3 linked regions of the Homo sapiens genome follow. The protein of the gene in region 1 interacts with the protein of each later gene in a pairwise test. Each region holds a gene or a part of one and is shown in the gene's direction. Other genes may lie near its edges.

Region 1 (3,745 bases):
CACTTAAAATTAACATATTTTATCCAATCAAGGCATATCATCATTTTATACATCAAGAAAGAAAAGAAACTAGCGAACAAACGGGGCATAATGCCGCCTGGCTCCGCTTCCCCCTCCCCTCTCCCCCCGTCCTTAGGAGACACCTCTGGAGTTCAGAAATGCTAGGAGAGCAAGCTCTTCATTCTTAGAATCCAGGAAGGGCCGGGCTTTTGCAGCTCTCCTCTGCCAGGAAGCCGCTGGGGGGCGCAAGACGCCAGCTTCTCACCTTGGCAGAAGTGCCTGCCTGCAAGCGCAGAATGGAAACTTCCCCATAACAAATTCAGAAGTACCTTGTACATTCACCACCCACCTGAAGAAAGCCTGAATGAAAGGAACAAAGCCACGGCGTTGTTTACTTTCCCATTATCGCCCCAGTCTTGCGGCAGGGCCCGGGTTTCCATCCAATCCACCCGGCCCGCCACTGTCCTGGCCAGTCTCCAAGGCTTCACCCAAAAAAAGGAAGCAATGAGGTGTCCCCCAGCGCGCCTTTTCACGTAGCACAGAAGGTGCTCAGTGGGTGAATCCTCTGAAAGTGCCAGCGTGTATGGTCAAACGGCAGCAACCTCTAGCCTATTAAACTCTCCCAAGATCTCTTCCAGACTTATTCCATTGCCGGAAAAAAGGCTTTTTACATATGCGCATTTAAGTAATTAAGATATTTCAACATGGTATAAGACGTAGGGGCTCTTACTCCATCAGTACTGGATGGGAATTTCCTTTTGCCCTCTACTCCCCAGGGTAACTGCAGTCCCACCTGAATGCGTTTTGCAGCCCTTACTCGGGTTCTATTTATGCGCAGCTTGGACAGGGCTCACTGGGCCCGGCCGGGCAGCTCCGTGGCCGTCCCTCTCCACCGCCCTTCCCCCGCGCCAGGCCAATGCAAGGGTGTGTGTGTTGGGGGGAGGGGAGGACAAAAGGGGTTCAGGATCTTTTTAACCTGCCTGCAGATGGCGCCCCGGGAAAGATTCCGAGCTGCATTACCTAAGCTCCAGGGGCTGCAGCCGCGGGGTCCCGGCCACAGGGCGTCCAGCCGCGAAGACTGCACAGCAGCTCTCCGTCCTTCCCAACTCGCGCGGCTGTTCGGCACCCGTGCGAGGAACGGATGGAAGGGAATTACTTGTAGCAGGGCCAGTACTGGGGGCGTGCACTCAGGGACCACGGAGTGGCACTCAGCCTCGACCCCACGCGCCAGGCAGCCCGGCGACCCCCACGCGCGGCGGGGTCCTGCCCACCCCACCCGGCGGCAGGTGGACAGTGTTGCTATGAAGAGAAAGCCTCGATTGTCCCTACAGCAAACCGCCACACGCCAGACCTCTGCTATTGTGCGCCCTCCATAGAAATGCAAACGAGCGGCGTGCGCCGGCCGCAATCTGCTCGTCCCCGCCCGCCCCCGTCTCCCGCGCCCCGCCGCGCTCGGCCAAGGGCGGGGAGGTGGGGTGGGATCTTCCAGAGACGGCTCAATGTACACATTGAGTATGCCTGGCAGGCATCACCAGCGCGCTCGGGACGCTAGTGGTCAGCTGCAGGGGGCTGTGCCCACTGCCTTTTGCAAGCCTCTAACTGGCGCTACCTGTTTTTACCTTAATTTCTGGCTCCAATGCAACAGTCTCATAGACTTCAAATTAAAGAAAAGAAACAAATAGAAAGGTAGCAATACAAAATGCAAAAAAAAATCCCTTTGCTTCTATAAAGGTGCTTTTCGCAAATTGCAGCATCATATAAGCAAACAAGGTTTTTGTGGGTTGGGTTTTTTCTTTTTTTTTTTTTTTTACTTTTTCCTTTTAAGGACTTCAAAAAAAAAAAAAAGCCAGGCGAGATGAAATCTGCAGGCTCCAGTCTGCCTGGTAACACCCCAACAAAAGCGGCAGATTTGAGGCATTGTCATCCCCCGCACCCCTCCCCACGTGGCCTTCTGGCACGAGCCGCTGGCTCGCCGCCTCATTTACATCAGAAAGCGGGTGCCGGCCAATAGGCGCGCAGCCTCGCGCCAGCTGGCGGCGCCGCACCCACCAGCCTATATAAGGGCGCGCAGCGTAGTAGGGGCGCACTCGCTGGTGGTGGGCGCGCCGTGCTGAGCTCTGGCTGTCAGTGTGTTCGCCCGCGTCCCCTCCGCGCTCTCCGCTTGTGGATAACTAGCTGCTGGTTGATCGCACTATGACTCTGGAAGAAGTCCGCGGCCAGGACACAGTTCCGGAAAGCACAGCCAGGTGGGTTTCAGGGCGCTGAGAAAGCCGCTGGTCGGTCGGCGACCGTCAGGGTTTTCCAGGGTGGGAATCCGCGGGGTAGGAGGGGAGCGCGGGGGTCCGGGCGCCAGATCCCGGTTGGAGAGCCGGGGTGCAGGCGCTGAGCCGGGATTGGAGTGTGGTTGGAGTTGGGGAGCCAAGGGTGTGTGCCGGTGGCCGGGGCTGGGGTCTCCGCCGCGCCCTCCGGCCGGCTCCCGCTCACTGCGCTGGCTCCTCCGCAGGATGCAGGGTGCCGGGAAAGCGCTGCATGAGTTGCTGCTGTCGGCGCAGCGTCAGGGCTGCCTCACTGCCGGCGTCTACGAGTCAGCCAAAGTCTTGAACGTGTAAGTGTAGACGCGGCCCAGGCTGGGAGACAGGGGCGGGGGTGAATGGCGAGGAGACTGGCGGATGGGAGGGGTGGCGGCGGGAGAACTCGGCTAGCCGGTTCTGACCTAGGTCCCCGCCTTGCCCTCGCAGGGACCCCGACAATGTGACCTTCTGTGTGCTGGCTGCGGGTGAGGAGGACGAGGGCGACATCGCGCTGCAGATCCATTTTACGCTGATCCAGGCTTTCTGCTGCGAGAACGACATCGACATAGTGCGCGTGGGCGATGTGCAGCGGCTGGCGGCTATCGTGGGCGCCGGCGAGGAGGCGGGTGCGCCGGGCGACCTGCACTGCATCCTCATTTCGGTGAGTACAGTCCCGTCCTGTCCCCGCCCCAGTGTCGTTCCCGCCTCGGCCCGCGGCCAGCCAGGCTGACCCTGCTCTCTCTCCGCAGAACCCCAACGAGGACGCCTGGAAGGATCCCGCCTTGGAGAAGCTCAGCCTGTTTTGCGAGGAGAGCCGCAGCGTTAACGACTGGGTGCCCAGCATCACCCTCCCCGAGTGACAGCCCGGCGGGGACCTTGGTCTGATCGACGTGGTGACGCCCCGGGGCGCCTAGAGCGCGGCTGGCTCTGTGGAGGGGCCCTCCGAGGGTGCCCGAGTGCGGCGTGGAGACTGGCAGGCGGGGGGGGCGCCTGGAGAGCGAGGAGGCGCGGCCTCCCGAGGAGGGGCCCGGTGGCGGCAGGGCCAGGCTGGTCCGAGCTGAGGACTCTGCAAGTGTCTGGAGCGGCTGCTCGCCCAGGAAGGCCTAGGCTAGGACGTTGGCCTCAGGGCCAGGAAGGACAGACTGGCCGGGCAGGCGTGACTCAGCAGCCTGCGCTCGGCAGGAAGGAGCGGCGCCCTGGACTTGGTACAGTTGCAGGAGCGTGAAGGACTTAGCCGACTGCGCTGCTTTTTCAAAACGGATCCGGGCAATGCTTCGTTTTCTAAAGGATGCTGCTGTTGAAGCTTTGAATTTTACAATAAACTTTTTGAAACAAACTTATGCTCTTTATTGAGGGTAGGGGATCTTTGTGTCGGGGGAGGTGGCGTGCAGGGTTTCAGAGGATTGCTGGAACTCCGTGGAACTGATGGCACCTGTTCCGTCTTCCTGTCGGGC
Region 2 (3,745 bases), on another chromosome or scaffold:
TTACTGTGGCAGACACCGTACTATAAGCTGTGGTATCACCATTATCTCATTTGAATCTCATAGTAGACCTATCAGTTAGAGGTATGTAAATGCTTCCTCCTCTCCCAGCACCTTTACAGATGAGGATGCTGAGCCCTAGAGGTGAAGAAAGTTGTCTAATGACAGAGTGCTTGTAAGAGGTAAAGCCAAGACTTGAAGCTCTTTCTTGCAGTTACTGGATTTCTCCTAATTTACGGGAACTAATACAGTACAGTAGCTAAGGATGCAAGTACTGAAACCAGAAATCTTGCCTCAAATGCCATTTCTGCCACTTGAGCTGTGTACTTTGGACAAATTAATCTAATCTTTCCCATTTGAAAGTCAGACATAATGTCTTCCCTAGAGGCTTGTGAGGATTAAGTGAGGCAAGTGTATGTAAATGGGCTGAGATCAGAGCTTGGCTCACAACACTCAGTAATGATCACTGCCAATTTTTTTTGGTATATAAATAAATAAATACACTATTTCCCCCATGTTTCCAATTTTTAAGACATTGTATAGTGAATTTATTGTATCTTTCTCAGATTAACAATTGCACACAGTGCTTGAAATTTAGAGGTATTTCACCTGAAAAGATGTCTAGAGATTGAAAGAAAACATGCTGGGCATATGATTTGAAAATATAAATAACATGCTATTTAAAAATAAGTTTACCCTATGTTTTCTATCTTTTCTGGCACCTAGATATACCATTTAATAAGTAATAGCAAGGATAATCATTTTTTTAAGCCCTGGAAAATCTTGATTAAAGAGGACATTTCAGTATTGCAAATAAATGCATGGTATTTGTGTAACATTGTGGAAACTAATAAACACAAATTGTATTATAGCAATTTTTTCTTGCCAATTTTATTGACAAATAATTTATATACAATAAATGACATCCATTTAAAGAGAACAGTTTATTGGCTTTTGGCAGTTGTATATACCCATGAAATTACCACCACAATGAAGACACAGCATTTCTATCATTTCTAAGATTCCTTGTGTCTCTTTCCAGTGCATCTCACTAAGTCCTAGGCAACCACTTTGCCCAAGTCTCTAGACTATCTTGGATGTGGAATGACTTTGTGTATGTTTAACTTTTGAAGAAACCTCTCAAATAGTTTTCCAAAGTGGTTATGCCATTTTACATTCCCAACAGCAGTGTATGCGAGTTCCAGTTGCTCCATATCCTTCTGCATTTGGTGTTAGCAATCTTTGAAGTTTTACCCCTTCACGTGGATGTGGAGTTATGTGTATTGTGGTTTCTATTTCCCTTATGACTACTTTTAAGCATCTATCCATGTGCTTATTGGCCATACATATATCTGATTTGGTGAAGTATTCAAATCCTTTGCCCATTTAAGAAATTGGGTGGTTTTTTCTTATTGAATTATAAGAGTTCTTTATACATTCTGTATACAAAGTCCTTTGTCACATATTGGAATGACCATTTTAAAACAAGTATTTGGTAACTAATAACGTTAGGCTAGGTACTTTAAAAAACAATATGACCACAGTACTACAGAGAGGTTGAACAAACTGCTAAACCTAGAAATCTGTCAAGGGAGGCCTATACTTTTGTGCCCAGAGCGCTGCGACCAAGAAACCCACAACATAAAACCTGATTTACTCTTAAAAGCCAACAGAGATAATATAGTTTTAAAAATAACAAAAATCCCACGATGTATCTTTGTTGTTGATGTTGCCGGCAAGCTGCCTACTATCTCCCAGGACCCCTCTTAAAATCGAAGTTAAAACCTCAACATAGGAACGCCGCGATCAGGGCTCCGTTGGGCCATTTTGGAATATCAGGCAGGTATCTTCGACGGTATTCATGTCATTTAATTATCTACATGACGTCCTTTAGGGGATAATAAACTCGTCGGGCTTTTCTGTTTGGCTTTGAACCAGTGTCATGAGGCGGAGAAGGCCCGACCAAAGGGCGGATAGGTACCGGGTTCCCGGAGAGCTGGACGCCGGCCGCGCATGCGCCCCACGGCCCGCCCTGGTTCCGCCTCCCTGGAAGAGGGGTGGCGTTGTCTCGGTAACCGGAGTAAACGGAGGCCTCCGGCAGACGCTGTGAAGAGAGGAGCCGCGGCGGTCAGTACCTTCGGTGAGTTTGGACCTCAGCAGCCGGCAGTTTCCACACCCTCCCCCTTAAATCTGTGGCTCAGAGGGCAGTGAACCCCACTTGGGCTTCTCTCAGGCTGGACCAGTGTTATAGCCTTCGTCCTCCCTGCGGTAGCTCAGCAAACTTTTGAAGCCACGAGTATTCTCAGGCTCGGAGCTAGACACTGTGTGCACGGTTCCTGCCTGCAAGACCCTGTCAGTCTGACCGGGCGGAAGCCAGCCAGGCAGCAGGAGCACAGCTTAGACCCGGCCAAGTCAGAGCAGCAGCGAGTCAGCTGGGAAGGTGCTGGGGCTCCCCGCTCCAGTGAGACACCTGCCCTGCGCTCAGCTGGGTGCGACGCTTGGCACGCTGGGCCCTCTGCACTTCGGCTTCCTCATCTCCAGAAAGAAAGGTGATAATGTGACCTCATGGAGTTATTATTAAACAGGATAATACAAGTAAAGTGCTTAGCACATGCATGACACATAGTAGGTGCACATAAATATTTGTCGGATAATAGGTAAAGACAGTCGCATACATGTGTGCTGCTCAGTGTGTCCAGTCTATCATGAGTTGCTAAGGGTGCGTACTGATGAAAATCTTTGAGAGGAGAAGGCTAAGGAGGCTAGGGAGAGAGAGAGGGTGACTGTAGCTGGGCTGCAATAAGCTACAGACCCTCTGACAAGGGACCTTTACACCAGACCGAGGAATCTGAGCTCTTATTTGATAGCAGTGATGAGCCATTAGAGGTTTTAAGCAAGAGTGACACATTAAAAGCTGTGTTTTAGAAATACAAGCGATAGTGTAGAAAATGGGTTACAGAAGGGAAGACAAAGTATGACGGTACAGTAATGGTAGAGGTGAGACACAGTGAGGACTGGAACTACAGAGGGACAGCAGGGACAGTAGGAATGAAGGGAGGGGAGGAATTCAAAAGGCTTAATCACTGGACACCAAGTAACAGGACTTGGAAATCATCTACATGAATTGGGTGAGAGGAACGGATTCAGAGTAAATACGCTGCTTTCTCATCTGTAAAATAATGACAGTAATAATAATGGATAGCAAGACTTTGTCTCAAAAATAATAATAATAGGCTGTGCGCGGTGGCTGACGCCTGTGATCCCAGCACTTTGGGAGGCGGAGGTGGGTAGATCACCTGAGGTCAGGAGTTCGAGACAAGTCTGGCCAACATGGGGAAACCCGTCTACTAAAAATACAAAAATTAGCCGGGCGAGGTGGTGTGCGCCTGTAATCGCAGCTACTCGGGAGGCTGAGGCACGAGAATCGCTTGAACCAGGGAGGTGGAGTTTGCGGTGAGCTGAGATCGCAGCACTGCACTCCAGCCTGGGTGACAGAGCCAGACTCCATCTCAATACATAAATACATAAATAAAATAATAATGGTACCTACCTCATAGGGTCGTTTTGAGAATTGTACGATAATATGTGTAGAATTTCTTAGAACTGTACTTGACACATAGTAAACATTAAAAAAGACAAGCTATTACTTTTTTTCTCCACAGCTGTATTTCACATTGCAAAGTAAAAACCGAGAGTCTGTTTTATACATCAGTCACTGTGAATCTTAAATAACCACCTCTGGCACACT
Region 3 (3,745 bases), on another chromosome or scaffold:
GAAAACGGAGCTGGTGGAGGGGAACTTGCGAGGGCGTGGCTGGGAGCCGTCTGAGCAGCTGGTCATGGGCGGCCTCTCAGCAGGGATGGGCTGGGCGTGGGGGGGCACCCAGTTGAAGAAGGGCAGGTGGGAGGGGGTTTGGGGAGGGATTGCCATGGAGGGACCTCAGATTTGGTGTCAGGTGTGGGGAATTGGGGCAGAGGAGGCACAGTCCTGAAGTGTTTCAGGTGGGTCAAGAACAGCCCTGAGCCAGGCGGAGTTGGAGAGAGAAGTGAGGGGCATTGGATGGGGGGGTCCTAGCAGAGCTGAGGGGTCTTAGTGGGAGTGGGTGGGGCGCTGGCAGTGGGGCCCTCGCCTGGGGTTGAGACTGTGCAGCACGAATGGGCCCCAGGGGAGCGAGGCTGGGGGTATCCAGGGTGAGGACTGAGCGAGCAGCTGGACTCTCACATCCAGGCTCAGGGTGGAGGGTGCCAATCTGGGAGGTGGGAGGTGCCGGAACCATCACCCTGAGTAGACTGGCATAGCTGCAGAGCTCTAGATGGAGCAGGCTGTGTCCCCTGCCCTCAGGACTCTATGCTGGTATCAAGTTCTTCCTCATTGATTTCATCTTTAAACGCTGCCCGAGGCTGCGCGCCAAGTACGACACGCCCTATATCATCTGGAGGAGTCTCCCCACCGACCCGCAGCTCAAGGAGCGCTCCAGCGCCGCAGTCTCACGCAGGGTGAGCCCGGCCCCCAGCTGCGGGGATGGGGGGATGGGGGGCCACGAAGCCGGGCATCCCCAGGCCCACAGTGCTCTGTTCACCTCCGGCTCATTTAGAGGCTGTTTCTTCAATTTTATAGACTCCTTAAACTTGAGGGTTTTTTTTTTCCCTGTTACCACTGCGGTTTCTGAGGCTCATCCAGCCCCTCCCAAGCCCAGGGCAACACCTGGGGACTGGCCATGATGACTGAGAGCCAGCAGGCCTGGGAGTGACCACTCCATGGGGGTGCCCGGCCCCTGCCATCCCTGACAGTGAGGCTCTGGCGCTGAGACCAGGCAGTTTGAGAAGGGCCCCCTTGGAGCCACAGCCTGGCACTGGGCCATATTTCATTCACAGTCACAGGCCCTCCAGATGTGCAGCACAGCATCCCAGCCAGGACCACGGGGAATGAGCAGGCCTCGGTGCTCCCTTCGGGGTGGCTCAGATGAGTCAGGAGGGTTGCTGGGCTCTCCCCACTGAGGTGAGGTGGCCCTGCCTGGAAGAAGGAGCCGCTCTGGGCCGGAAGGGACCTCGGGAACGTCTTCCCAAATTTGGATCCCAGCTTTTGGGGAGGTGTGTGTGCGGCCAGCACATCTGGGTGCTGCAGGCGTGGGCAGCGGGCCTGACCTCGACGCTGTTTGCCGTTGGCAGCTGCAGACGACCTCGTCACGGAGCTACGTACCCAGCGCACCGGCCGGCCTGGGTAAAGAGGAGGACGCCGGTCGCTTCCACAGCACCAAGAAGGGCAATTTCCACGAGATCTTCAATCTGACAGAAAACGAGCGTCCGCTGGCGGGTATGTGTGCCGTGAGTCTGAGGCCAGGCCGAGCGCCGACACAGACTGAAGGCCCGTGAGGGGGGCGCTGTGGATGCAGGACGGGGTCGCCCTGTGACAGGCCAGAGGAGCCCTCAGGATGGCATTCACATCCCACTGCCCCAGGAGGAGTGCAGGAGCCAGGGGTCATGAGGACTCTGCGGGCTACAGGGGAGGAGGGCGTGCCCGTGGGGAGAGCCGCCCACGCTGCAGCACTCCCCTGACAGCAGGCGTGCAGGCAACACACTGGGGAGAGAGTCCAGGGCGAGGCCTCAGGGCCTGCAGGGCGCTGGCAGGGGGTCTGCCCCTGGTTCCATCGTGTCTGGAGAAACAAGAGCCACCAGGGGACAGGTGACTCAGGATCCTGGGGACAGGTCAGCTTTCCCAAAGGGAGGGCCTGTTAAACTAAACCGGGCAGCTCGAGGTGTGTGATGAGCGGCTGCAGAGGCAGCTGCGGAGAACGGAGCTTCGTCCTCTGCTGAGCCCTGGCCCTGCCGGTCTTGGTGGAGGTGGTGTCCCAGCGCCCTGACCCTGCCGGTCTTGGAGGTGGTGTCCCGGCCACACTGTGACTTCTGTTGCTCCCTGCTCTGCCTGGGTGCTTTTACTTTAAAAACCCTGCCAGTGCCTGTTGAAGAGGAAACATCTGTTTTCCACCCTCTGGGGCCACCTCACTCTTGCCGGCGCGCCTTCCTCTCACTGTGGGTGTGACGTGAGCGCGGTGGGCGGATGTCAGGATCTGAGAGTCAGGCTCCTGGGTCCCAGCGTCAGGTCAGAGGCTGGGTACTTCCAGTGGAAAGTGTGACAGGCGGGCCTTCTCCCATTAGTGTGCGAGAATGGCTGGCGCTGCTGCCTCATCAACAGGGACCGGAAGATGCCCACGGACTACATCAGGAACGGGGTGCTCTACGTCACGGAGAAGTGAGTGCAGCCGTGGGGCCCTGTGTGGCTGCAGGGGAGGGGGCGCAGGAGGCTGCCTAGGCCCTGGGATGGCGTGGCTGGCCCAGTGCAGGTTTTCCTGAGTGGTGGCCATGGCCTCTCCCATGCTCTGCTCTTGCCGGCTGTCTGGGCTCCCAGGGAAAAGGTGTTGTCTCCAAGCCGGACGTGGCCTGGGCTGTACTGCTGCCATCCCTCAGGCTGGCGGGGATGCTGTCTTCTCTGGGGCCCAAGCAGTTCATGGAGACGAGGGGCAGAGTCTCCCAAGGAGGGGACCGTGTGGGGACCTGCTATTGCTGAGGCCCTGAGTCCTTGTTGCCCTGAGTGCCTCATGCAGAGCAGTGGCCGTGAGTGTCTCACTCAGAGCAGTGGCTGTGAATGTCTTATGCAGAGCAGTGGCCGTGAGTGTCTCACTCAGAGCAGTGGCCGTGAGTGTCTCAGAGCAGTGGCCGTGTCTCACTCAGAGCAGTGGCCGTGAGTGTCTCAGAGCAGTGGCTGTGAGTGTTTCACACAGAGCAGTGGCCGTGAGTGTCTCATATAGAGCAGTGGCCGTGAGTGTTTCACCGGTTCTGTGTCTGCTGGGAAGGGAGCACCACTGTCCATCCCACTGGGGGCTGAGAGGCAGCCCCGGGAGACCCCCACCTGGTGGGAGCGTGCTCTGGTTCAAGAGCCAGGCGACGCCTCTGTCCGTTCCCCTTCCAGTTACTTGTGCTTCGAAAGCTCCAAATCTGGGTCCTCAAAGAGGAACAAAGTCATCAAGCTAGTGGACATCACGGACATCCAGAAGGTTGGTGCACCTACCCACCCCCACTAACCCCCGTGTTTTCTTCGTCACCTGACAGAGGCTGGCGAGGCTTTCCCTATAGACTTCTGCCAGCCTCTGTCAGCATCTGGGCGCCGCGGCCACGCTGGCCGGCCATGGTCCGTTTCCTTGACTTGAGTCCCCATGTCCCTGTGGGTCTGCCCCTGCCCTGGGGTCCACTTGCCTGGACCGTGTGTCTCAAAGTGGAGGGGCTGGGTTGGAGCCCAGGAGGTCAGGACCCAAGCCCCACTCTGGCTGCTGTGTTCCCCTCGTATCTGGGACCCTCCCCATAAAGAAAAGCACAGGGGCCCTGAGCCCCTGCCTCGGATGCAGGTTTTCAGGTGGGAGCTCAGATGGTCGCGCCCGCTCTGGGCATTTTCTCAGCATTTTACCGTAGCATGGAATGAGCAGGTGGGCGTGGCCACAAGTGCCTGTGGTCCCTTGTTTTCTGGG

What was found.
Region 2: the proteins of GADD45G (region 1) and CFAP44 interact in binary tests that used the Homo sapiens proteins (3 or more experiments, as listed by UniProt).
Region 3: the proteins of GADD45G (region 1) and GRAMD4 interact in binary tests that used the Homo sapiens proteins (3 or more experiments, as listed by UniProt).

The regions. Positions count from the first base shown.
Region 1 is NC_000009.12:89,602,929-89,606,673, forward strand, and holds GADD45G (growth arrest and DNA damage-inducible protein GADD45 gamma), read left to right. Parts: upstream 1-2,083; 5' UTR 2,084-2,193; coding exon 2,194-2,246; intron 2,247-2,503; coding exon 2,504-2,605; intron 2,606-2,738; coding exon 2,739-2,952; intron 2,953-3,040; coding exon 3,041-3,151; 3' UTR 3,152-3,627; downstream 3,628-3,745. UniProt on the Homo sapiens protein: Involved in the regulation of growth and apoptosis. Mediates activation of stress-responsive MTK1/MEKK4 MAPKKK.
Region 2 is NC_000003.12:113,439,845-113,443,589, reverse strand, and holds the start of CFAP44 (cilia- and flagella-associated protein 44), read left to right. Parts: upstream 1-2,096; 5' UTR 2,097-2,137; intron 2,138-3,745.
Region 3 is NC_000022.11:46,672,276-46,676,020, forward strand, and holds part of GRAMD4 (GRAM domain-containing protein 4), read left to right. Parts: intron 1-567; coding exon 568-722; intron 723-1,100; coding exon of another isoform or gene 1,101-1,223; exon of another isoform or gene 1,224-1,371; intron 1,372-1,394; coding exon 1,395-1,539; intron 1,540-2,381; coding exon 2,382-2,475; intron 2,476-3,192; coding exon 3,193-3,277; intron 3,278-3,745. UniProt on the Homo sapiens protein: Plays a role as a mediator of E2F1-induced apoptosis in the absence of p53/TP53. Plays a role as a mediator of E2F1-induced apoptosis in the absence of p53/TP53. Inhibits TLR9 response to nucelic acids and regulates TLR9-mediated innate immune response.